4 linked regions of the Homo sapiens genome follow. The protein of the gene in region 2 purifies or fractionates together with the protein of the main gene of each other region. This does not show direct contact. Each region holds a gene or a part of one and is shown on either strand. Other genes may lie near its edges. The genes, in order: OGDHL, ACBD7, PAG1 and ACOX1.

What was found.
Region 1: the proteins of ACBD7 (region 2) and OGDHL purify together in Homo sapiens (affinity purification with mass spectrometry; 2 studies listed by BioGRID and IntAct, with this or other methods). This does not show direct contact.
Region 3: the proteins of ACBD7 (region 2) and PAG1 purify together in Homo sapiens (affinity purification with mass spectrometry; 2 studies listed by BioGRID and IntAct, with this or other methods). This does not show direct contact.
Region 4: the proteins of ACBD7 (region 2) and ACOX1 purify together in Homo sapiens (affinity purification with mass spectrometry; 2 studies listed by BioGRID and IntAct, with this or other methods). This does not show direct contact.

The regions. Positions count from the first base shown.
Region 1 is NC_000010.11:49,734,128-49,738,354, forward strand, and holds the end of OGDHL (2-oxoglutarate dehydrogenase-like, mitochondrial), read right to left. Parts: intron 4,136-4,227; coding exon 4,064-4,135; intron 3,946-4,063; coding exon 3,820-3,945; intron 3,732-3,819; coding exon 3,659-3,731; intron 2,394-3,658; coding exon 2,230-2,393; intron 2,051-2,229; coding exon 1,896-2,050; intron 1,225-1,895; coding exon 1,101-1,224; 3' UTR 514-1,100; downstream 1-513.
Region 2 is NC_000010.11:15,074,931-15,078,776, forward strand, and holds the end of ACBD7 (acyl-CoA-binding domain-containing protein 7), read right to left. Parts: intron 3,824-3,846; coding exon 3,761-3,823; intron 3,674-3,760; coding exon 3,600-3,673; 3' UTR 545-3,599; downstream 1-544. UniProt on the Homo sapiens protein: Binds medium- and long-chain acyl-CoA esters.
Region 3 is NC_000008.11:80,976,036-80,983,079, forward strand, and holds part of PAG1 (phosphoprotein associated with glycosphingolipid-enriched microdomains 1), read right to left. Parts: intron 4,460-7,044; coding exon 4,400-4,459; intron 872-4,399; coding exon 509-871; 3' UTR 1-508. UniProt on the Homo sapiens protein: Negatively regulates TCR (T-cell antigen receptor)-mediated signaling in T-cells and FCER1 (high affinity immunoglobulin epsilon receptor)-mediated signaling in mast cells.
Region 4 is NC_000017.11:75,955,153-75,962,196, reverse strand, and holds part of ACOX1 (peroxisomal acyl-coenzyme A oxidase 1), read left to right. Parts: intron 1-1,821; coding exon 1,822-1,982; intron 1,983-4,630; coding exon 4,631-4,738; intron 4,739-6,249; coding exon 6,250-6,369; intron 6,370-6,515; coding exon 6,516-6,631; intron 6,632-7,044. UniProt on the Homo sapiens protein: Involved in the initial and rate-limiting step of peroxisomal beta-oxidation of straight-chain saturated and unsaturated very-long-chain fatty acids.

The sequences.
Region 1 (4,227 bases), about 35 Mb from region 2:
AACATCCCTCCTCTGTGGCAGCTTCTCCAGTATCTCCACAGGGAAGCAAAACCCACAAAAGGCCAGAGTGGAGAAGCCAACAGACACTACCTGGTGCTCAAATGAAAATCTGGCGTAGTGGCTCACACCTGTCATCCCAGCACTTTGGGAGGCCAAGGCAGGCGGATCACTTGAGGTCAGGAGTTTGAGACCAGCCTGGCCAACATGGTGAAACCCCGTCTATTAATAATACAAAAAAATTAGCCGGGCATAGTGGCGCATGCCTGTAATCCCAGCTACTCAGGAGGCTGAGGCAAGAGAATCACTTGAATCTGGGAGGCGGAGGTTGCAGTGAGCCAAGATCGCACCACTCCACTCCAGCCTGGGTGACAAGAGCCAAACTCCGTCTCAAAAAAATATCCATGGAGGCAGATATTTTCTTCTCTCCATTTTTTTAACTTTCTCCCCATTCCCTACCTTCTCTCAACTGCCTATCCCTCCCCCAGTTTTACAACATGAAATGAAAACAGCAAATCTCTCTGAAGCATGTTTTTATTTCTCTGTGATTTGGTTTTCTACTTTGGTACACATGAGCTGTGGCTGCATTTCACACAGAAGCTGACACATCTCGCAGGAATGCCCCATAAAACAGAGCGCAAACAAATCACCCAGCAGGTTCGCTTCACCTGGCTGTTACTGCTGAACTCCCTACTTCTAAGAGCACAGAAGAGAACATCGCTTTGAATCTACAGATAAGCGAGGGTGGGGCGAGCAGCAGCCAGGGCTGCCGGGATGGGAGCGGCCACAGACACAGGCCCCCGGGTGTCTGTCTTGAGATACAGGTGGAGAAGCCGCCCAAGAAATTCCAGCAAGATGGGAGCAGCTGGGGGATGCTCCAGCACAGTAGCCTGCCTATAGGACTCCTCTGGCTCCCTCAGTCCTGGTAGATTCTGGCATGACACCAAGGCCAGCAGTGCTGGCTCTTGGCCCTGTCACTGTGTCTGTTTTATCCTGGGGCCCCACAGCCCCTCTCCTGGGCAGGAGCTCCGCCCCTCCCCTTTTCATCACCCCCTTGGTCCCCAGCAAACCCACAGCGAGACCTACACAGGTTTTGCCCAGCTCTAAAATGTCTTGCCCTCAAAGGCCTGGAGATTGAAGGCAGTATCCAGAAACTTCTTCAGTGACACCAGGTGAGTGTTCCTGTTTCCTGTGGCTGGTGCAGCCGCTGGGTCCCGGCCAACATACCTGGAGGAGGAGAGACAAGCTAAGGGGAAGGCGGGGCCTAGCCGCCCCCCAACCGCTGCCCTCACTCCGGGACTGCAGGGGGCACGCATCTGAGAACCGCTGACCTCGAAGCCATAGACCCTGCCTTTTGGCCCTGGCACCACTTCCAATGAGCTGCAAAGCCCGGATCAAACTCAGTCACCTAGCCACAGAAGAGTGGGGAGAAACTGTCCCTCCATGTCACTGCACTTGCCCATGAGGACAACAAATGAGGCAACAACTCAAAGACTTTGGGGACAAACATACTTTTGGCTTCTTGGAGTTTCTCAGGACCCTCTCCCATCTTCCCAGGAACACATGATGCCAGTATTGGGAACGCACCATGTGCCAGAGCTAATACATACATCAGATCTAATCTTATCACCGCCCTTTGTAGAGATGCAGGGACTAAGGCTCCAAGGACTACATAACCGGCCTAAGATCTAAGGCAGGAGTTTTGAGACATGTAGCAGGTTCCTTAATACAGTTCTGGCTGCAGAACAAACACAAAGCCAGTACTGATGATGCCCCATCATTGCTCATCACCAGAGAAGGGCAGGGCCAGTTCTGGGTAGCATGGCCTATGGGACAGATGGAGCCAGGACAGAGCCTCAGGGCCGAGGTGAGGGGCAATCAGCGGCCCCACCATGTACCATATGGGCCGTGCGCGCCTCAGGATGGTCATGAAGCGTGGGCTGATGTAGTCATAGTAGCCCATGTTCTTGTGCTCCTCCTGACACCAGGCCAGCTCCGCACCTGGGTACTTCTCTGCCTCCTGCTTGATCAGGTCGAAGGGGAATGGAGAGATCTGGGGAGGCAGAAACAAAGGAGCATAGCCAGAGGAGGGGCGGTATGTCCCCAGCACCCCCGGACAGGAGGCACAGGGCCTCACCGGCCTTCATCTGGCCTGCCTGGCACATTGGCCAGAGCCGGGGCCAGCGACGTGAGCTTGCCCATCACTTGACTGTACAAGGGGTTCAGGCACACCTGCTCCAGGCGCGTGATGGCCACTTTCTCCTCCAGGTCCTGGCTGCTCCGCTCCTTCACCAGGTCATAGTACACCTTTCCCGTGCAGAAGATGAGCCGCTGCACCTGCTCAGGGGCCCGTGCTGCGGCCCCATCTTCAGGAATCACCCGCTGGAAGCTGGTCCCTGAGGGACCAACAGGACATGGCAGAGGCGTTGGTACCCAGAGGGGCTGGGGCAGCTCAGGACCAGGCCTGCATCCCCAGGCTCTCCTTAGCCACTGACACTAACTGCAGGTTTGGACTTGTGGCTGCAGTGGACACCTCTTGAACTAAAAGATGGAGCAGGGGGCAGATGACACCCTGAGCTGTCATAGGGAGAGGGGTGGAGACACCCAAGGGTTGAGCCCTGGAAGCATCACGTTTAAGGTGACCGGAGGTGGGGGTACAATAAGAAGCGCCCTGAAGGAGACAGAGAAGGCAACATGATGGCATCATCCTTTGCCCCAACCTTGCTTCTGCCCAGCTGCGCCCACCTCCTGCAGAGCACTGCAGTCCCCCACCACTAAGCAGATGTCCCAGGAGGCTGCTGCATGCTCCTCCTCTTTCAGCCTGGCAGCTGAGCTTCACCTCCAAGCCCCAACCATTCTTCCTTCCTGAGCCCATGATCCTGACCCCAGGTCACGCACACTGCAAAACCTCTCAGGAAGCTACTGTAGTGTCCTCACATCCCTGCATCTCAGGTGAAGACTCTGGGGTAGAGAGGACAAATGGATCCCAGGCCCTCAAGAGAGAAGCCAGCACAGGGCAGGTAGCCCAGGTAGTCCAGTCCCGACATCAGAGCTCTAACAGCTGCCCACCTGCACAGAGGGGACATCCAAACACACATGGGAGAAAATCCAACCCCTGTCCATGCTGAGGCCCTTCCCAGCCCTCCCTCTACTGCCCAGGACCATTTTCCAAGACAGCTCTGCTCCACCAGCCTCACACCTGTCCTTCCCTGGACATAGTCACCTCTCAGTTGCAACTATAGTGTTTTATCTGATCTGACTCCCAGGGAAATAAGGCCAAAGACTCCTGGAGGGGACACCAGGACCCCAGGGCCTGTAATGTCTGTTTGGCTCATGAATTTTTAAAATGGACAAATGAATGAATGATACTCAATATCTTGCGAACTCAGCAGGCCTCTGCCAGGCCTCGACCAGCCCTGCTAGGGTCTAAGGGGGCCCCAGTGGACTCTACCATGGACGCAACCCACATGACCTGAGCTGGCCCAGGTCAGCCATTGTGCCAACCTCCCAACCCTACTGCTAGTGGGACCATGCCAGGAGCTGCTGCAGGTCAGCAGAGCCACAGGCAGAGGGGAGGTTGGAGAAGCCCCAGAAGCAGAAGCCACACAATGGGCCACCGCCCCATTGTGGGCTACCCCACACACCCAGGCCAGGCACGTACCGGATACCATTTGGTCAAAGCTGGACTTGGCCTCTGGGTGCCTCAGCAGAGATTTAGGTGTGAAGATAATCAGCTGGAAGGGAAATACACGCCCAGCTGCCAGCTGGCCCTGCCTGGCCAGGCCCCCTGCCTGTGACCCCTGCCCTGGGACGGAGACTCACCGGCTTGCGGAAGGGCAGCAGGATCTGCCGGCGCAGCACGTGGAAGTAGTTGGCCGGTGTGGAGCAGTTGACCACGATCCAGTTGCAGTCATAGAGCTGGCTCACCTCGAAGTCCTTGGTGAATGCCTGTGGGGACGAGATGCATATGGCCAGGGTGGCTGTCTGCTGCACCCACACCCTGGACCCCTAGCCCTGTGGGCACAATAGGGCGCGTCCCTGTCCTGGGGACAGCAGCAACACTCACAGGGTAGGCATCCGAGTCATCATTGCTCATCTGCAGGAACCTTTCGGGCCTCGCTGACGAGTGCTCTGGGCCCTGAAAGCAAACGCCAGACAGCCAAGGCTGGACCCCACCATGGGAAAGACATCTGGCCCTGCAGGGACCCCAGGCTCAGGGGAAAGTCTGGA
Region 2 (3,846 bases):
CGCCTGTAATCCCAGCTACTAGGGAAGCTGAGGCAAGAGAATCACTTGAACCCGGGAGGTGGAGGTTGCAGTGAGCCAAGACCATGCCACTGCACTCCAGTCTTGGCGACAGAATGAGACTCTGTCTCAAAAATAATAATAATAATTAGGATTCGTGATTATTAATTTGAAAAATGTTTAGTCAGTATAGTCTGCAAACTGAAGTTTCATGATGGAACAAATGCCAGGCTTTGGGGGTAAGCTTTTTCCCCTGCATCTCTACCTGGTGGAGGTAAAGTCCACATGGGAACAACTTTCAGGAGTTTTCAAGCCCTCAACTGTAAGACACCAAGTCTATCATTGATGATGTCTTCTCTTTGAAGGAATTAGGCCTTGGTATCATCGTGGAAGACGTCTATCATTAGGCGAAATTTAGAAAGATGAGAATTATCTTGATTGCCAAAATTTTCCCGATGAGAAATCAACCTCGATTTTTAAAAGTAAACTTTTTGAGGTAACTGCAGATTCCCTTTTATTTGTAAGAAATAATACAGAGAGATTTGTGTAGCCTTTTACCCAATTTCCTTTAATGGTAACTGTTATGCAAAACTATAGTATAATATCACAATCAGCATATTGGTGTTGCTACAATCAAGACAGAACATTCCATCACTGCAGGATCATCCCTCCTGCTGCCCTTTTAAAGCCACACCCACCTCCCTCCTCCCTGGCAACCACTATTCCATCCTTTGCGTCTATAAATGTTCCCTTTCAAGAATCCTGGCTGGACGCGGTGGCTCATGCCTATAGTCTCAGCACTTTGGGGGGCCAAGGTGGGTAGATCACCTCAGATCAGGAGTTCCAGACCAGCCTGGGCAACATGGTGAAACCCTGTCTCTATGAAAAATACAAAAATTAGCTGGGCATGGTTGCACGCACCTGTAGTCCCAGCTACTCTGGAGGCTGAGATGGGAGGATTGCTTGACCCTGGGAGGCAGAGGTTGCAGTGAGCCGAGAGCGTGCCACTGCGCTCCAGCCTGGGTAACAGAGTGACAGCCTGTCTCAACAAAAAAAAAAAAAAAAAAAAAGAAAAGAAAAAGAATGTTATATAAATGGAATTATACATGTCACATTTGGGGACTGGCTTTTTCTGCTCAGCATAATTCCCTGGAAATTCATCTAGCAGACCTAGATAGTTTTGTTGTTGTAGTAACATGAAGTGGATCTATTCCTCTGGTCATACCATTCCAAATCTAAATTTTTATGCAGGGAATAGAGGTACACTGTTTTGGGGGATATTTATCTTAAGGGATCTCAAACAATTTTTTGAATTGTTAACATGAGACTGTCTTCTTTCAAAGAGCCTGTGTACCATCCAGAAAGACTGAGTAGGGGGCCAATATTATATTCCAGACTCTATTTTTACTCAGATAGAACTGAACATATGGGGTACAGTAGTGGTACAGTTTATCACTAGATACATTTTAGTTTGCCTTTTTGTCTTAAATGTCTTAAATGTAAAAATTTAAAGAAAAATAGATATTCCTATGGGGGCTTTTTAAATTTCTTTAAACTGCTATGGACAGACTTGTAATTTTTTTTTTTTTTTTTGAGACGGAGTCTTGTTTTGTCGCCCAGGCTGGAGTGCAGTGGTGTGATCTTGGCTCACTGCAACCTCCATCTCCTGGGTAAAAGCAATTCTCCTGCCTCAGCCTCCCAAGTAGCTGGAATTACAGGTGTGCACCACCAATGGCTGGCTAATTTTTGTATTTTTAGTAGAGATGGGGTTTTGCAATGTTGGTCAGGCTGGTCTCGAACTTCTGACCTCAGTAATCCACCTACCTCGGCCTCCCAAAGTGCTGAGATTAGAGGCGTGAGCCACCACGCTCAGCCTTGCCATTGATTCTTAATAACCTGTTTTTATTTCACCAGTAACATTAACTTATTGTAACAGAACAGATGAGCCAAAAGAACAAACAGCTGTTCAAATCTGTACACATATTACCAGGGCTAGACTTTCTAAAAAGTCAAAAAACAACAGATGTGGAGAAAAGGGAATGCTTATACACTATTGGTGGGAATGTAAATTAGTACAACCTCTATGAAAAACAGCACGGAAATTTCTCATGGAACTAAAAATAGAACTACCATTCTACCCAGCAATCCCACTACTGGGTATCTTCTTAAAGGAAAATAAATCATTCTATCCAAAAGATACCTGCACTTGTATATCTATTGCAGCACAATTCACAAGAGCAAAGATATGGAATCAACCTAAGTATCCATCAGCAGATGATGGGATAAAGAAAACGTTGTATATGTATACCAGGGGATATTACTCAGCCATATAAAGAGAATGAAATTACGGCTTTTGCAGCAACGTGGGTGGAACTGGAGGCTATTATCTTAAGTGAAACAACTCAGAAAAAAATAAGAAAATAAAGATTTTTAAAGAACCCTCAGAAACAAAAAAAAATACCACATGTTTTCACTTATAAGTGGGAGTTAAACAGGGTGTATACAGGGTCATGGAGTGTGGAATAATAGACACTGGAGGCTTGGAAAGGTGGGAGGGGGTGAGGGATGAGCAATTACCTTTTGGGTACAATGTACAGTATTTTGGTGATGGTTACACTAAAAGCCCAGATTTCCCCACTACACAATATATCCATGTAACAAAACTGCACCTGTGACCAGGTGTGGTGGCTCACACCTGCAACCCCAGCGCCAAGGTGGGCAGATCACCTGAGGTCAGGAGTTCGAGACCAGCCTGGCCAACATGGCAAAACCCCGTCTCTACTAAAAATACAAAAATTAGCCAGCCATGGTGGCAAGCACCTGTAATCCCAGCTACTCGGGAGGCTGAGGCAAGAGAATCACTTGAACCCAGGAGGCGGAGGTTGCAGTGAACCGAGATCACACGACTGCACTCCAGCCTGGGTGACAGAGTGAGACTCCTCAAGAAAAAACAAACAAACAAACAAAAACTGCAACTGTACTCCCTAACTCTATAAAAATAAAAAATACTTTTCTAAAAGAATTTTTTTTTTTATACTTTAAGTTCTGGGATACATATGCAGAACGTGCAGTTTTGTTACATAGGTATACATGTGCCATGGTGGTTTGCTGTACCCATCAACCGGTCACCTACATCAGGTATGTCTCCTAATGTTATCCCTCCCCTAACCCCCTAGTCCCCGACAGGCCCCAGTGTGTGATGTTCCCTTCCCTGTGTCCATGTGTTCTCATTGTTCAACTCCCACTTATGAGTGAGAACATGCTTGGTTTTCTGATCTTGTGATAGTTTGCTGAGAATGATGGTTTCCAGCTTCATCCATGTCCCTGCAAAGGACATGAACTCATCCCTTTTTATGGCTCCATAGTATTCCATGGTGTATATGTGCCACATTTTCTTAAAAAGAACTTTTAAAGACACCTGGTTTAAGCAAGTACAATTGAGTTAACTATGTAGTTTCAGTATACTTCTAAGTACTACAGCTCATGCTAATAGCAAAAATATACATGATACATCAAGTTAACAGTATGCCTCTCCCTCTAAATGTTAGGTCATGATAGCATTTGGAAGTCTTCAAAAGGAAAAATTCCTCATATGCTGTATTCTAAATTCCGTATTTTTCTATCAGCTCCTTTGCTTTAGAAATATAGGCACTCGTCGCATCTTCCGTCGACAACCCTAGAAAGATACAAACAGGTTATCTCCCTGATTGGTGCACTGGGAAATTAAGAAAGTTTGCTTTAAACTTGTGAAAGACTAAAAAACCTTTTTTGAGGTTCCATGCTTCCCATTTGGCTTTGCCTTTTAAATCTAGCATTCCTGGACACGCTGGCAAAAGAAGGAGACATGCA
Region 3 (7,044 bases), on a different chromosome or scaffold from region 2:
GGCAAAGGCCAAGCTTTGTGTGAAAATTTCCTTGGGATGAACCACAGGAATCTGGACATTTCAAGGGGGAAAAAGCCTTAAAGTCAGTAGCAGACAGAGAAAAGGAAAGAGAGGAAGAAAAACCTGCTTTTCTGAATGGCAGTACTTTAGGCCGGGGGCATTGTGGTCCTTGGTGAGTGCAGCTTTTCCATACAGCTTGGCTTTCCTCACTAATGAGATGAGACCACTGACAGCTGGGATCTTTTGTGGGTGGTGAGGGTGCAGCAGGGAGATGTGCTTGGGTGTACCTGTCCATCTGGCAGGCAGGGGCACACTCAGGTGCAGCCTAGTCCGTACCTCTCTGTCTCAGAAACTGAACAACTGGGAGAACAGTCGACAGGGCCTCTCCAACCATCTTCAGGTGACTAAAGCAGCATATGAAGTATAGGTTTGTGTCACTTCTTCTCTTCCACAGAAGAAACGTCTCCAGACACTGATCACAGGCTACCCAGGGTTGTCTTCTGGGTTGCTAGAGCCTGGTAATATCTCTGCCTTGCTGCAAGTCACTTATGCTCTCGTAGTCGTTCTCCTTTGGGACGAGACCGTGGTGGCCATTGGTCCCCAGGGTGGCCTTTTCTTCCTCTCTGTTGAGAGTCTGTATCGCTTCATAATCAGGCTCTGGCTCCTCGCTGGGCCTCCCTGCTGGTGGAAGTGTGCTGTTTGGAGTTTTTTCGAAGTCTTTAACAGTAGCATAGAGATCATTACAGGAGGAGGGTGACCTCTGTGGGTCCCCTTGAATGGAGGTGTAGGTGGACTCCGGAACTGTAAGCGACTGCCCCGATTTATTCACTAACTGTCCAGGTTTATTTACTGATGAGTACATAGCTGAGATCTAGGAGACAAAGGGAGAGTTGAATAAACTTCCAGCTGTGACTTCCCCCTCCCTCTTTTTAGTGACAAGCTACATACTGAGCACTCCTGGGTTTCTGTGTGTGTACTCCTTAAAGATTTGTTCTTTCTTATCTGTACTAATTATGGAGCACATTACTAGAGAATAATTACACACACTATCTTCAACTATGTTAACTAGATCAGTCATATTCCCTTAATTCCGTGAAAACCCAGTTCTCTTGGGTCTGCCGAGGAATTTGAGGAGAGGTGGAGTGGGAAGCTCCTGAAGGCCCCGGGGACCTGACCACAGCATGTGTTTTATTTCATTTCTTTATCAGAATGATATTTTGCCTGAAAAGGGGCTCCACTGCTTTACAAAAAAGGACAGAAAACACATAGTAGACCGGTGATTCTCAAAGTGTGGGCTGTAAACCAGCAGCAACAGGATCTGGGAATTTGTCAGAAAGGCAAGTTCTCAGGCCTCATCCCAGAACCACCAAATCAGAACCTCGGGGCTGGGGCCCAGCAACCGGTGCTGATTCTGATGGCCAGTAAAGTATAAGAACTCTGAATTAGACTACTCCATGCTTCCTGCATCACAGTGGTCTCCAACACCCGTTGCTGGATTCTCGTTGGTGGTACACATATATCTGAAAGGGTATTCCTGTCCATTATTTCTTGACTTAGTTGCGTATTACTGGTTAAACAGACATTGACAGTCCAGGTCTAGTTTTCTTCAGTGGGAAAACTCATTCTCGCTTGCAACCAGCCAAGTCAGAAATGACAACTTACAGGATACTATTAAGAGCCAGTGGCTTTCCAAGCACACCCCCACAGTCTCACTAATAAATCCTGTATCACCTCCGATATCAACAGGGATTTCATTCATTGTGAAGATTAAATATACTAATTAGGAGACTTTTGGGGAGTATTATTTTATTGTGAAAAATCACGGTTGGAAATAAGTAAAAATACCCTTCATTACCTGTGTTTATTTTTATCACAGTGATTTGATTCATTCAAATACCCAGGAAATACATGAACATGCTTCCTCACAGATGCCTGGCTTCCCAAGGGCTGAGGGACATTTTCCTGCTTCCACTTTTCTCACATACTGCAGGTGAAGTTTCCAGCTTCTTAAGACAGGCCTGTCTTAAGACAGGCCTTCTTATGTCTCAAAAGCTTCTTAAGACAGGCCTGCCACATGCTAACTGGTCATTTGCATGAGAACTTTTCATTACAGGCTGGTGGCTGGCTCAGTTTGGTGAGGCCTTGACAATCCAAGGGTTTACAGTTCAGAAAAACAGTCTTTGGAAAACTCTTACTATGTTGATCTGACTATCCTAATGAATATGAAATGATTAACATTCTCACCTTAGAGGTTTTAATGAAAAAACTGCTCTCAGAATACAAGAATTATAATTTCTTTGAATTTAATAAAAAAAATTCACTGCTGTTTATAAGGAAGTGCAAACACAGAATGTATTATCTAAATGGTGGTCCAAGCCAAAAATTATATGTGGACAGATTATAAAAAGGTAAACAATGGATGACAATGGTGAGGGGAGACGGCATACCAGCGTATTCATCACCTGGTAACATCAAGGAGGACAAATGTACCTTGACCTAGATTGTAACAATGAGAGTCAGCCCCTCACCACCGTTAGCTTCTCTCCTCAGCTTTCTTCCCCCTGGTCTTTGTAATTAATGCCCCTCACTCTTTGTAAGAGTACTTGGTCTTCTTGGCCTTTGTCCTCATTCATTAACTTGCAATTTAATATTGACTCTGGGAATGAACCTAGTGTGCAGAGGGTCTCACTGTACATTTCAACTTTTATAAAAGCTTCTTGAGTCTTCTCATATTCCTTTTGACTGTTTTCTATGACCATTATGACTATTATTTTTATTTTGTATACAGGTTTCTCTTCCAGCCCCCTTGCTATTTAGCTTCTCAATTTTTCTCTTTAAAACTTTCATCATTATTCCTCAGTCTGTAAATTGTTGCTATATTCCCATAAGTTACTCTCTTCCTTTTCCCCATTTCTCTTCTTTTTCTAATCAATCCTTTCCATAACATTCTGTTAAATTGGGGTAATAGAACTTAAAGCTCAGATCTCAGCTTCAGTCTGGACTGTTTAACATTAAATTACATAAATACAAAAAAAACTTTCATATTTATTTTTCCTCTTTGTCCTAAAATGAATGTCTGTGAGTCATAGTTCTGTCATGTTAAAAATTCATCAGTATAACTAGGTCCTGTTTCAAAAAATACAAACAAATGTAAGATAAGGAGCAATTTAAAATTTTACATAGTCTTTAATTCCCAGAACTCCTATATATTTTACCTTCTTGTCCCAGATGGGATCACTTTGGCTGCAGAGTAGAAAACAGAGTGGAGGGAGGCCAAGGAGCTGCCAGGGATCAGCAGGAGGGGACTGCTCTGGCCTAGGGAGGGGCGGCCGCAGTGGGCTTGAGGGAGGTGGGTACACAAAGAAAACAGTTTGGAGGTGCAACTGATGGGTCTTGGCAATTGACTGTGTTGGAGGACAGTGAGGAAAAGGAAGTATCGAGATGACCCCTAGGTTTTGGTCTGTGCAACCAGATAGACAGATGGCAGGTCCATTCTGGAGGTAGAAACATGGACGAGGGTGGGCAATATCACCTAGGGAAAGCATTTTTGCTCTTTGAACATTCAACGTGGGTGTCTATGTCCATATTCTAATGCTTTACTCAGAGTCCTATAGGAAGTGATGTACCTGCATATGTACTTTGCTCTTGTACATGTACACAATTTACTCTGCTAGGAATTCCAGATAGAAGCTATATACAGCTAGATCAATTAAGGTGTTTAGCTCTCTGAGCATAGCTCAACATTTATATATATACATATGAAATATGTATATATACACATATTTCATATTATATGTATAATACTGGCTTTAACAATTTTAATGCTTCATTGAAAATCTAACTCGTGAATTTTGCACCCTGGTGCTTGGGAATATGCGATCTGCTCTTGTTGGCTGCTATGTCTGACCCTAGCTCCTGCCTGGAACTGTACTTACTGAAGTTAATCTGCTCTCAGCATCCAAATTTCCCCACGGAGACTTCCTCTTTCTGTCTCCCAGGCTGGAGCAAATTCCCTACACTCACCTGTTCTAATTTCCTGAATTTTCCAACCCATGATTCATTTCCTTCTGATGTGGTCTTCCTGACTGCTGACTGCTCCCACGCTGGAATTTTTCTCTTCTCACTCTTCTCCCCTGCCCTCTCTATTTTTCCTGACCCTGCTTTCCTGCTCAGTTTCTTTTCCTGAGCTGACTACTTGTCCTGCCATCCTTCTTGTCTGGCCTGCCCGTCAGTCTCTCCAAGCCATTATAAAACCAGCATCCCAAGTCTTCATCTCCAAACATAGGCATAGGAGAATATTTCAGCTCTTTCAAAGGGTAACATTACAGTGCATTTATTCAAGGGGGGAAGGTCTATTCTTTACTACAGTTTTCCCTTTTTAAAAAGAAACAAAACTTACCTCTTCTTCTGTGAGAGTGGGGTCTTCTTCCCGAGACTTGTATGACAATGAGCTAAATCTCTGTCAGAACAAACACAAGCCAAGGAAAGTAATTCAGCGTTAACAATCTAACCTTTCTTTTGCACATGTTTCCTCATAATCTGTCTAGCAACGTTTTCAAATGATTTTTATGGAACCACGAAGAAATTATGGGAAGAGAAACACTTATGCAATCTATTACCACATGTATGATGTTCGGGGATATCTAGTAGTATTATCCTTAGAGAAATTTCCTCTAATTTTGTATTTGCATCTGTAGGTACAAAGAAGCCAAAATAATTATTTAGACTACTGTTTCAATTCCTAATTGTCACTGAAGGATTGATCATCCATGGAGGATTAATATTTAAAAACATGGTGTTTCTTTATCAAATGCCTGAATTTTATACTTCTACAGTTTGCTGGCGTCATCAGAAAGATCCTTAAGTCATTTGGAAACTTCAAAGCTAATGGAGAAACTGACTCACATTTTGTGTCTTGCCCCCTGCCTGATTTCTGAAGGATTTTGGCTCTTGGTTTACTGATTCTCTAACACATCCCTTGTCTTAATTTTTGGTGACCTCAACAAACGTGTACCCTTCTAAATCCCGCCCTTCAGTTCCTTGACTTTCCCTTCCCCCACTGATTTTATGCTCTATCTGTGTCCCCTCTCCATGTCCACCCCCGGCCTCAGCACCCTCATGGCTGCACCCCAGGCCTTTCTAAACCACAGCCTCTCCACCAGCCCAAGTCCTTGCAACCCCTTTCAGACCAGCGCTCGTTGTCAAAGCTCACTCCTTCTGTAACCCAGTTCCAATGCTCCTTCAACACCATTGGGACCCATTCATGCTTTCAAAGTCTGCCCTTCTCCTTGGTGTCCTGTACTGCTTTACTAAGCTTAAGCTCCATAGTCAACTGCCAATCATACGTGAACTCAACCCTCTAGTGAGCCCTTAAAGCCGCTCCGTATCATCCGATGCTTCCCCAGTATACTCAGTCTCTGCTCAACTCACAGTCTACTTTGCATCTTCTCCTCTTCTCCCCAGACTTCCAACACCTCCTCACCTATCTTCACTCTGAGCAGATGATCTTGCTTCCTAGTTGGCTAAGAAAACTGAAGGAATCAGAAGAAATTTGTATCAACTCTTAGCCCCACCCTCAGCCTCTGCGTTAATCTATTTTCTTTCCTCCCTGTCAAATGGATTTTCCATGTTCCTCCTTCAGGTGATCCCCTCCTTCCTACACACTAGACCCTGTCTCCACATACCTATGTGTGAATACTGAGCCAGGAATTCTCCCAGTGTGGGATCATTCCCAGCCACATGCAAACATGCTGTTGTTTCTCTCATTCTAAAACCAAAACAAACCTAGTCCTACTCCGAAATTCTACCTACTCATTATCTCACTTCCTTTTTTTTTTTTTTTTTTTTTTTGACAGCGTCTCACTCTGCCATTCAGGCTGGGATGCAGTGGCGTGATCTTGGCTCACTGCAGCCTTGACCTCCCAGGCTCAAGCCATTGTCCCACCTCAGCCTCCCAAGTAGCTGGGACTACAGGTGCATACCACCATGCCCAGTTAATTTTTGTATTTTTTGTAGAGACGGGGTGCTGCTACATTGCCCAGGCTGGTTTCAAACACCTGGTTTCAAGTGATCCACCCACCTCGGCCTCCCAAAGTGTTACGATTACAGGCATGAGTCACTGCGCCCAGCCTGTCTCACTTCTTTATAGCAAAATCTTTTAAAGAGTGGTCTAAAAAGTCAACCGAACAATTTTTCTCTTCCTATTCTCTTTCTAATCCATTTCAGTCATGTTTCTGCCTCTACCATTCCACAGAGACTGCTCTTGTCAAGGGCACCAATGAGACTCGCCTTCCCTGACCTACCCGCTGCATTTGGCAGAGCGGCCCGCCACTCCTTCCTTCCTGGACACGTTCTTCACTGCCTTCCAGGACTCCACAACTTTCCTGTTTTTGTTTCCTACTTTGGTCTCTTCTGCTGGTTCCTTTTCCAGATCTCTATTCTTGGAGCTCTTCCAGGCTCTATTTACACTCACCTATCCTGTGACCTCACCCAATCTCATGACTTTTAAAACCACATTCTGTGGATGACTCCCACATCAGCAAATCCAGCCCTGGCCTTTCCTCTTTACCCGGCTCATCAATCCAGCTACCATCTGATAAGCTCTACTTGGAAGTCCAATCGGTATCTCAAGTTGAACGTACCCAACACTGACTGCTGGTTCTCCCCCCAAAACCTGCTCTGCCTGTATCCTCTTCATTTCAGTTAATGGCAATTCAATCTTTCCCACATGTTGGGCCCAGCCTCGTACTCATCACTGCCTCTTCTTTATCTCACTAAGCGTAGGATCCATCCGCAAATCTCTTGGCTCTGGCTTAGCTTTTCTCATCACCTCTGCTGCCTCTTCCCTGATCCAGGCCACCGCCATTTCTAATCTGGTTTATTAGAGTCACTACCCAATTGTTCTCCTCACTTCTACCCTTTATTTCAAAACTGGAGTCAGAGGGATCCTTTGAAAACATAGGCTAGGTTGTGCCATTCTGCTGCTCGGGACTCTAGTGACATTATTAGTGTTCAGACTATAAGCCAAGGCCATCCAGGATCGAG
Region 4 (7,044 bases), on a different chromosome or scaffold from region 2:
AATTTCTGAAATAAATTATTGGGATGAAGAGCACTGTCAGTTTTTGTATTAAAGTGTTTCAGTAGAGCGTGGCCGAATATTTGACATGATGAATCTGAATGAAATGATCAGAGCTATGTGAGGAATATGGTTCTACGCTGGATGTTTTGTGGACAAAACAGAAAAAAAATCCCAGCCTAGAAGCATTATTGAAATTGCATCGAGGAAAAACTATAATCTGGGGGTCATACTGTCACTCTGAGAGAACTACTATGTTCTGTCTCGCTTTCTCATCAGAGGAAATCCTTGTACCAGTACCACTCAAATTCTCTGTTCTCCGACTCCTGGCTTCAAGCGATTCTGCCTCAGCATCCCAAGTAGCTGGGATTACAGGCACATGCCACCACACCCAGCAAATTCTCCATTCTATACAACTTTTTTTTTTTTTTTTTTTTTTTGAGACAGAGTCTCGCTCTGTTGCCCAGGCTGGAGTGCAGTGGTGTGATCTCGGCTCACTGCAACCACCGCCTCCCAGGTTCTCCTGCCTCAGTCTCCCAAGTAGCTTGGATTACAGGCATGTGCCACCACACCTGGCTGATTTTGTATATTTAGTAGAGATGGGGTCTCACCATGTTGGTCAGGCTGGTCTTGAACTCCTGACCTCAGGTGATCCGCCCACCTTGGCCTCTCAAAGTGCTGGGATTACAGGCATGAGCCACGGTGCCCGGCCTTTTTTTTTTTTTTTTTTTTTTGTATTTTTAGTAGAAACGGGATTTCACTATGTTGGCCAGGCTGGTCTCAAACTCCTGACCTCAAGTGATCCGCCTGCGTCAGCCTCCCAAAGTGCTAGGATTACAGGCATGAGCCACCATGCCTGGCCCTATACAACTTTTCAAATTCTCTCTCTCTTTTTTTTTTTTTTTTTGAGATGGAGTCTCACTGTGTCGCCCAGGCTAGAATGCAGTGGTGTTATCTTAGCTCACTGCAACCTCTGCCTCCTGGGTTGGAGCAATTCTCCTGCCTCAGCCTCCTGAGTAGCTGGGATTACAGGTGTGCACCACCATGCCTGCTTAATTTTTGTATTTTTAGTAGAGACAGGGTTTCGCCATGTTGGCCAGGCTGGTCTTGAACTCCTGACCTCAGGTGATCCACCCACCTCGGCCTCTCAGAGTGCTGAGATTATAGGTGGGAGCCACTGCACCTGGCCAATTCTCTCTTATTTATTTATTTATTTTTTTTGAGACAGAGTCTCACTCTGTCACCCAGGCTGGAATGCAGTGGGCATGATCTCGGCTCACTGCAACCTCCGCCTCCTAGGTTCAAGCGATTTTCCTGCCTCAGGCTCCCAAATAGCTGGGACTACTGGCTGGCGCCACCACGTTCAGCTGATTTTTGTATTTTTAGTAGAGTCAGGGCTTTGCCATGTTGGCCAGGCTGGTCTCGAACTCCTGACTTAAGGTGATCTGACCGCCTTGGCCTCCCAAAGTGCTGAGATTGTAGGCATGATCCACTGCACTGGCCTCTCAAATTTTCTTTATTTCCTTTGATTTAATTCCTGGGCGAGGATCCTCTGCCTTGCACGTGTGGTTTTGTGCTGCATTGGCTTTGGAATCAGTAACCAATCCCTGTCCTCGTACTCCTTGCCGACTCAGGAAAAATGGAAATTAACAAGAGCTATAAAGTAATACAGAAAGGGACAGTGCTCCCATCTATGATTAAGTGCACGCAACTAATTCATACTTAAGGTTTTTTTGTCTCCTTCCCTTGCTCTATTTAAATTGCTGATTCTCTCACACCTGATGACTCTTCTCTCAAATGCCCATCCTTGATATTTCCTCGAAGTTTTGTGCACCGAGGGCGGCCTGAGCCTCTGGATCTTCACTTGGGCATGTTCCTGCCCACCTTGCTTCACCAGGCAACTGCGGAGCAGCAGGAGCGCTTCTTCATGCCCGCCTGGAACTTGGAGATCATTGGCACTTATGCCCAGACAGAGATGGGTCATGGTATGGAGTATTCAGTCTACCTTCTGGGTTGGGCGGGCCCCTGTGAGCTTACCATGTGTGGAGTGCCCACCATGTGCCATCGATGGTGTGTCGATGTTCTATGGTCTGTTTAAATGAGCTCTTTCTGCAGAGTCCAGGTTTTGGTATAAACACTGCTTTGGTGAGTGGGAATTAAAGACCATGATACTGATAAAATGATTGTCCTTTTTATACCATAGTTCCCCTTCAGAGGGTCAAGAATTGCAAATCAGGCCTTATTTACCAAGTGGTTTTTCAATGTTACTGAGGTTGTATAGAATCTGTGTGCATATACAACCCGAAGCTGTTTTTTTCTTCATTACTATCTGATTACCTTTACTACTGATACCTTAATGAGTACAAATTCCAGAAGAAATACAAATAATAGTTTGTGTACTCTTGGATTTGCTTGAGGGAAATGAGTAGCTTATAACTGACGTGTGTGACATTTTGGAGTTATTTGTACTTTGAGTCAATCAGTAGTTCTGCAAGTGACTTGGCTGGAGAGTGAAAAAACCAAGATAAGCCGAACTTGCAGGCATTTGGTTTCAGACTCTGTATCTCCACCTTTCATTGATCTTTCCACCCCCCACCTGCTTTCTTCATGCACCTGGGTGGGCTGGAGGTGGCCGCTGTTCCTCTTTGTATCTTCTCTGAATTGGGTCCGTGTTTGCCATTCATTTGCTTATGGCTTCTCTTTTTCTGCTCTGACGTTTCAGAAAAACTGGTCTAGTGTGTATTTGCCACTTGCTCCTTATTTCTATACAGCTGCTGCTTTTTATTTGGTGTTGAATAGTATTTTACAGGATTTTCATGAGACTCCAAGTGGAATACTATTTGTTTCAGTTGTGCTTTTGAAAACATTTTGTCCTTATCTGTTCTGTTTAATGTTATCTGCTTTTCTGTAAAAGCTGCTTCTTTGATGAAAGATGTCTGTGTCTGATTTGTTGACTCCCACTCGGGAAAGTTGTGGATTGCACATAAGTTGGTTATTCAACTTGGAAGCTTCTAAATGTTTCAAAGTGTGTTTAATGAGGTCTAAGCGTTATGAAAGCAGATTGGTAAAAGGTTCCCAACGTTTGCTTTAGTACAGTATTTTTGTAGAGACTGCCACCTAGAACATTTTTCTATGACTCTTTTCAAATAATTTTGATATATTTGTGTTAAGATTTAAAACATAAGATCCTGTCTATCCCAGTACACATAAGAAACTGGAAACTCTTCCTTGCCACATTAATGAACCAGCAGGACTAAGTTAGGCCTGCCATTGGAAATCTCTAGGGTCAACTGAGACCTTATTATTGGACCTTTAGGAATTTTTAAAAGTCACATTTCAGGTCATTTCCCCAATAACAGTTATACTTTTATACTTTTTTTTTTTTTTTTTTTGAGACGGAGTCGTGCTCTGTCGCCCAGGCTGGAGTGCAGTGGCGCGATCTCAGCTCACTGCAAGCTCCACCTTCCGGGTTCACGCCATTCTCCTGCCTCAGCCTCCCGAGTAGCTGGGACTACAGGCACCCACCACCATGCCCAGCTAATTTTTTGTATTTTTAGTAGAGACGGGGTTTCGCCGTGTTAACCAGGATGGTCTCGATCTCCTGACTTTGTGATCCGCCCGCCTTGGCCCCCCAAAGTGCTGGGATTACAGGCGTGAGCCACCGTGCCCAGCTTTAATTTTTTTGTTGTTTTTTTAGTAGAGACGGGGTTTCACCACTTTAGCCAGGATGGTCTCAATCTCCTGACCTCGTGATCCCCCCACCTCGGCCTCCCAAAGTGCTGGGATTACAGGCTTGAGCCACTGTGCCTGGCCTTTTTCTTTTTCTTTTTCTTTTTTTTTTTTTTTTGAGATGGAGTCTTGCTCTGCCACCCAGGCTGGAGTGCGGTGGCACAATCTTGGCTCACTGCAACCTCCACCTCCCGGGTTCAAGCAATTCTCCTGCCTCAGCCTCCTTAGTAGCTGGGACTACAGGCGCATGCCACAATGCCTGGCTAATTTTTTGTATTTTTAGTAGAGACGGGTTTCACCATGTTAGCCAGGATGGACTCGATCTCCTGACCTCGTGATCCACCCGCCTCGGCCTCCTAAAGTGCTGGGATTACAGGCATGAGCCACCACGCACAGCCATACATTTTTAATTTATACGAATTTTGGCTGAAATGTCTTCCTCTCACATGTTATCTCATTCTTCTCATTAGTACAGAATTCAAGAATGTTGAATTGGTGTGGTTAACACAATACATATGACTTGAAATTGGCATACTTGCAACTCAGAGATGGGTTTAAAAAGACAGTTAACATCCCTGTTAAATTCATATATTGTGATCTTAAAAATGTGATTCTAAGTTGCCTTTATATTTTCTTTCAGTTGCTGTAAATAAATGTAACAAATCAAATACAGAAATGGAACATGCATGACACTTAGATTTTCAACTTAATAGGAAACCATCAGATAGTGTGGGAAATTCAGTGTCTTGGTTATCAACCAGTTGTAGCTCATCTACAGGTGTTTTTTGTTAGATTTTGTTTTTCTCTGAGATATGAGAGTTTAAAGGACTGTGCAGGAAATTTTTCCTTGTGCCTATTTTTTTCCCCATCTCTTAACTGAAGTCAATGTAATTTATCTCCTTAGGAACTCACCTTCGAGGCTTGGAAACCACAGCCACGTATGACCCTGAAACCCAGGAGTTCATTCTCAACAGTCCTACTGTGACCTCCATTAAATGGTGGCCTGGTGGGCGTAAGTGAATTTTTCAGCATTTATTGGATGTTTTGAAGGTTTGTCATGAGATTTTGCTTAGAATGTAGAGCTTTTATGATAATGTCGGCCAGACTTGGTGGTGAAATCCTAACACTTTGGGAGGCTGAGGTGGGCAGATCACTTGAGGTCAGGAATTCAAGACCAGCCTGGTTAATATGCTGAAACCCCATCTCTACTAAAAATACAAAAATTAGCCGGGTGTGGTGGCGCACACCTGTAGTCCCAGCTACTTGGGAGGCTGAGGCAGGAGAATCACTTGAACCCGGGAAGGTTGCAATGAGCCAAGATTGCACCATTGCACTCCAGCCTGGGCATCACAGCAAGACTTTGTCTCAAAAACAACCCAACAAACAAATATATGTGTGTGTGGTGTGTGTACATAGAGGGGTGTGTGTGTGTGTATATAGACAGAGAGAGGTGTGTGTGTGTATATATATATATATATATATATATATATATATATATAGAGAGAGAGAGAGAGAGAGAGAGAGAGAGAGAGAGAGAGAGAGAGAGAGAGAGAGAGAGAGGAAAGCCAGGCATAGCGGCACATACCTATAGACCTATAGTCCTGGCTACTCAGGAGGCTGAGGTGGGAGGACCACTTGAGCCCAAGAGTTCAAGCCTGCAGTGAGCTACTATCTGTGATCATGCCACTGCACTCCAGCCTGGGTGACAGAGTGAAACCCTGTCTCTTAAAAAAAAAAAAGAAAAAAATTTAAATAGTTTTAACACAAACTTTTTTTTTTTTTTGAGATGGAGTCTCACTGTGTCACCCAGGTTGGAGTACAGTGGTGTGATCTCCGCTCACTGCAACCTCCACCTTCTGGGTTCAAGCGATTCTCCTGCCTCAGCCTCCTGAGTAGCTGGGACTACAGGAGCGTGCCACCACACCCAACTAATTTTTGTATTTTTAGTAGAGATGGGATTTCATCATGTTGGCCAGGCTGGTCTCAAACTCCTGACCTCTGGTCTGCCCGCCTCGGCCTCCCAAAGTGCTGGAATTACAGGCGCGAGCCACCGTGCCCGGCTGACCCGAAACTTTTATATCTTCTTATTCCATTCTGAGTTATTATCTTGGAATATATATTTCCAATACAGTTAGTGGTTGAAGGATTTTGTTATTCACATTATATATTTTATTTATTTATAATTTATATGTAAGAAGCCACATGTAGCTAGTGATTACTGTTTTGGACAGCACTGCCTTAAGGGATAACAAGGAAGTAGTTTAAATTAATATTCTTATTTTTATCCTAAAATTTTCTCTACGTAAATGTATGAGAAATAAGTAGAAAAGAAAGTAATAACTATTAGCTTAAGGGAATTTCTTTCTGAAAGCTAGGTGTGATGCTGTCAGCAGAAAGGCTTTCTGGACACATACTATTGGTTTAGTCTAGTGTTAGATTTAACATATTCTTTCTTCTTTTTTCTACCCTTTAAAAATGTATGAACGTTTGCCCACCCCTCCCTTGTTCTCTTTGATATTACAGTTGGAAAGACTTCAAATCATGCAATAGTTCTTGCCCAGCTCATCACTAAGGGGAAATGCTATGGATTACATGCCTTTATCGTACCTATTCGTGAAATCGGGACCCATAAGCCTTTGCCAGGTAAGAACTGTTCATCTGATGTTGAGATGAAAATGAAACTGAGCACTTTCTTCTGCAAAAGGTAGAATGCCCAACTGAAGAGGCGGAGCAAAAGCCAGAAATTCCAGAGCATAAACATCTCGTGACTGTCCTTTCATCTGTGGTAGGAATTACCGTTGGTGACATCGGCCCCAAATTTGGTTATGATGAGATAGACAATGGCTACCTCAAAATGGACAACCATCGTATTCCCAGAGAAAACATGCTGATGAAGTATGCCCAGGTATGTTTTGATAGAAAATAAAGCAGAGGCATCAAACAGTGGAGTTGAGTGGCTGTTACTCACAATAGGGTTAGAATGGTCTGTTCTTTTAGAAGGTAATAACAGCAGGGCACACTGGCATATTCCTGTTATCCCAGCACTTTGGGAGGCTGAGTGCGTGGATGACTTGAGCCCAGGAGCTCAAGATCAGTCTGGGCAACATAGTGAGAACCCATCTCTACAAAAAGTAAAAAAATCTAGCTGGGTATGGTGGCACACGTGTGTAGTCCCAGCTACTTGGGAGACTGGGGTGGGAGGATCACTTGAGCCTGGGAGGCCGAGGCTACAGTGAGCTGTGATTATGCCACCGTACTCCAGCCTAGATGACAGTGAGACCTTGTCTCAAAAAAAAAAAGGAGGCTGGGCGCAGTGGC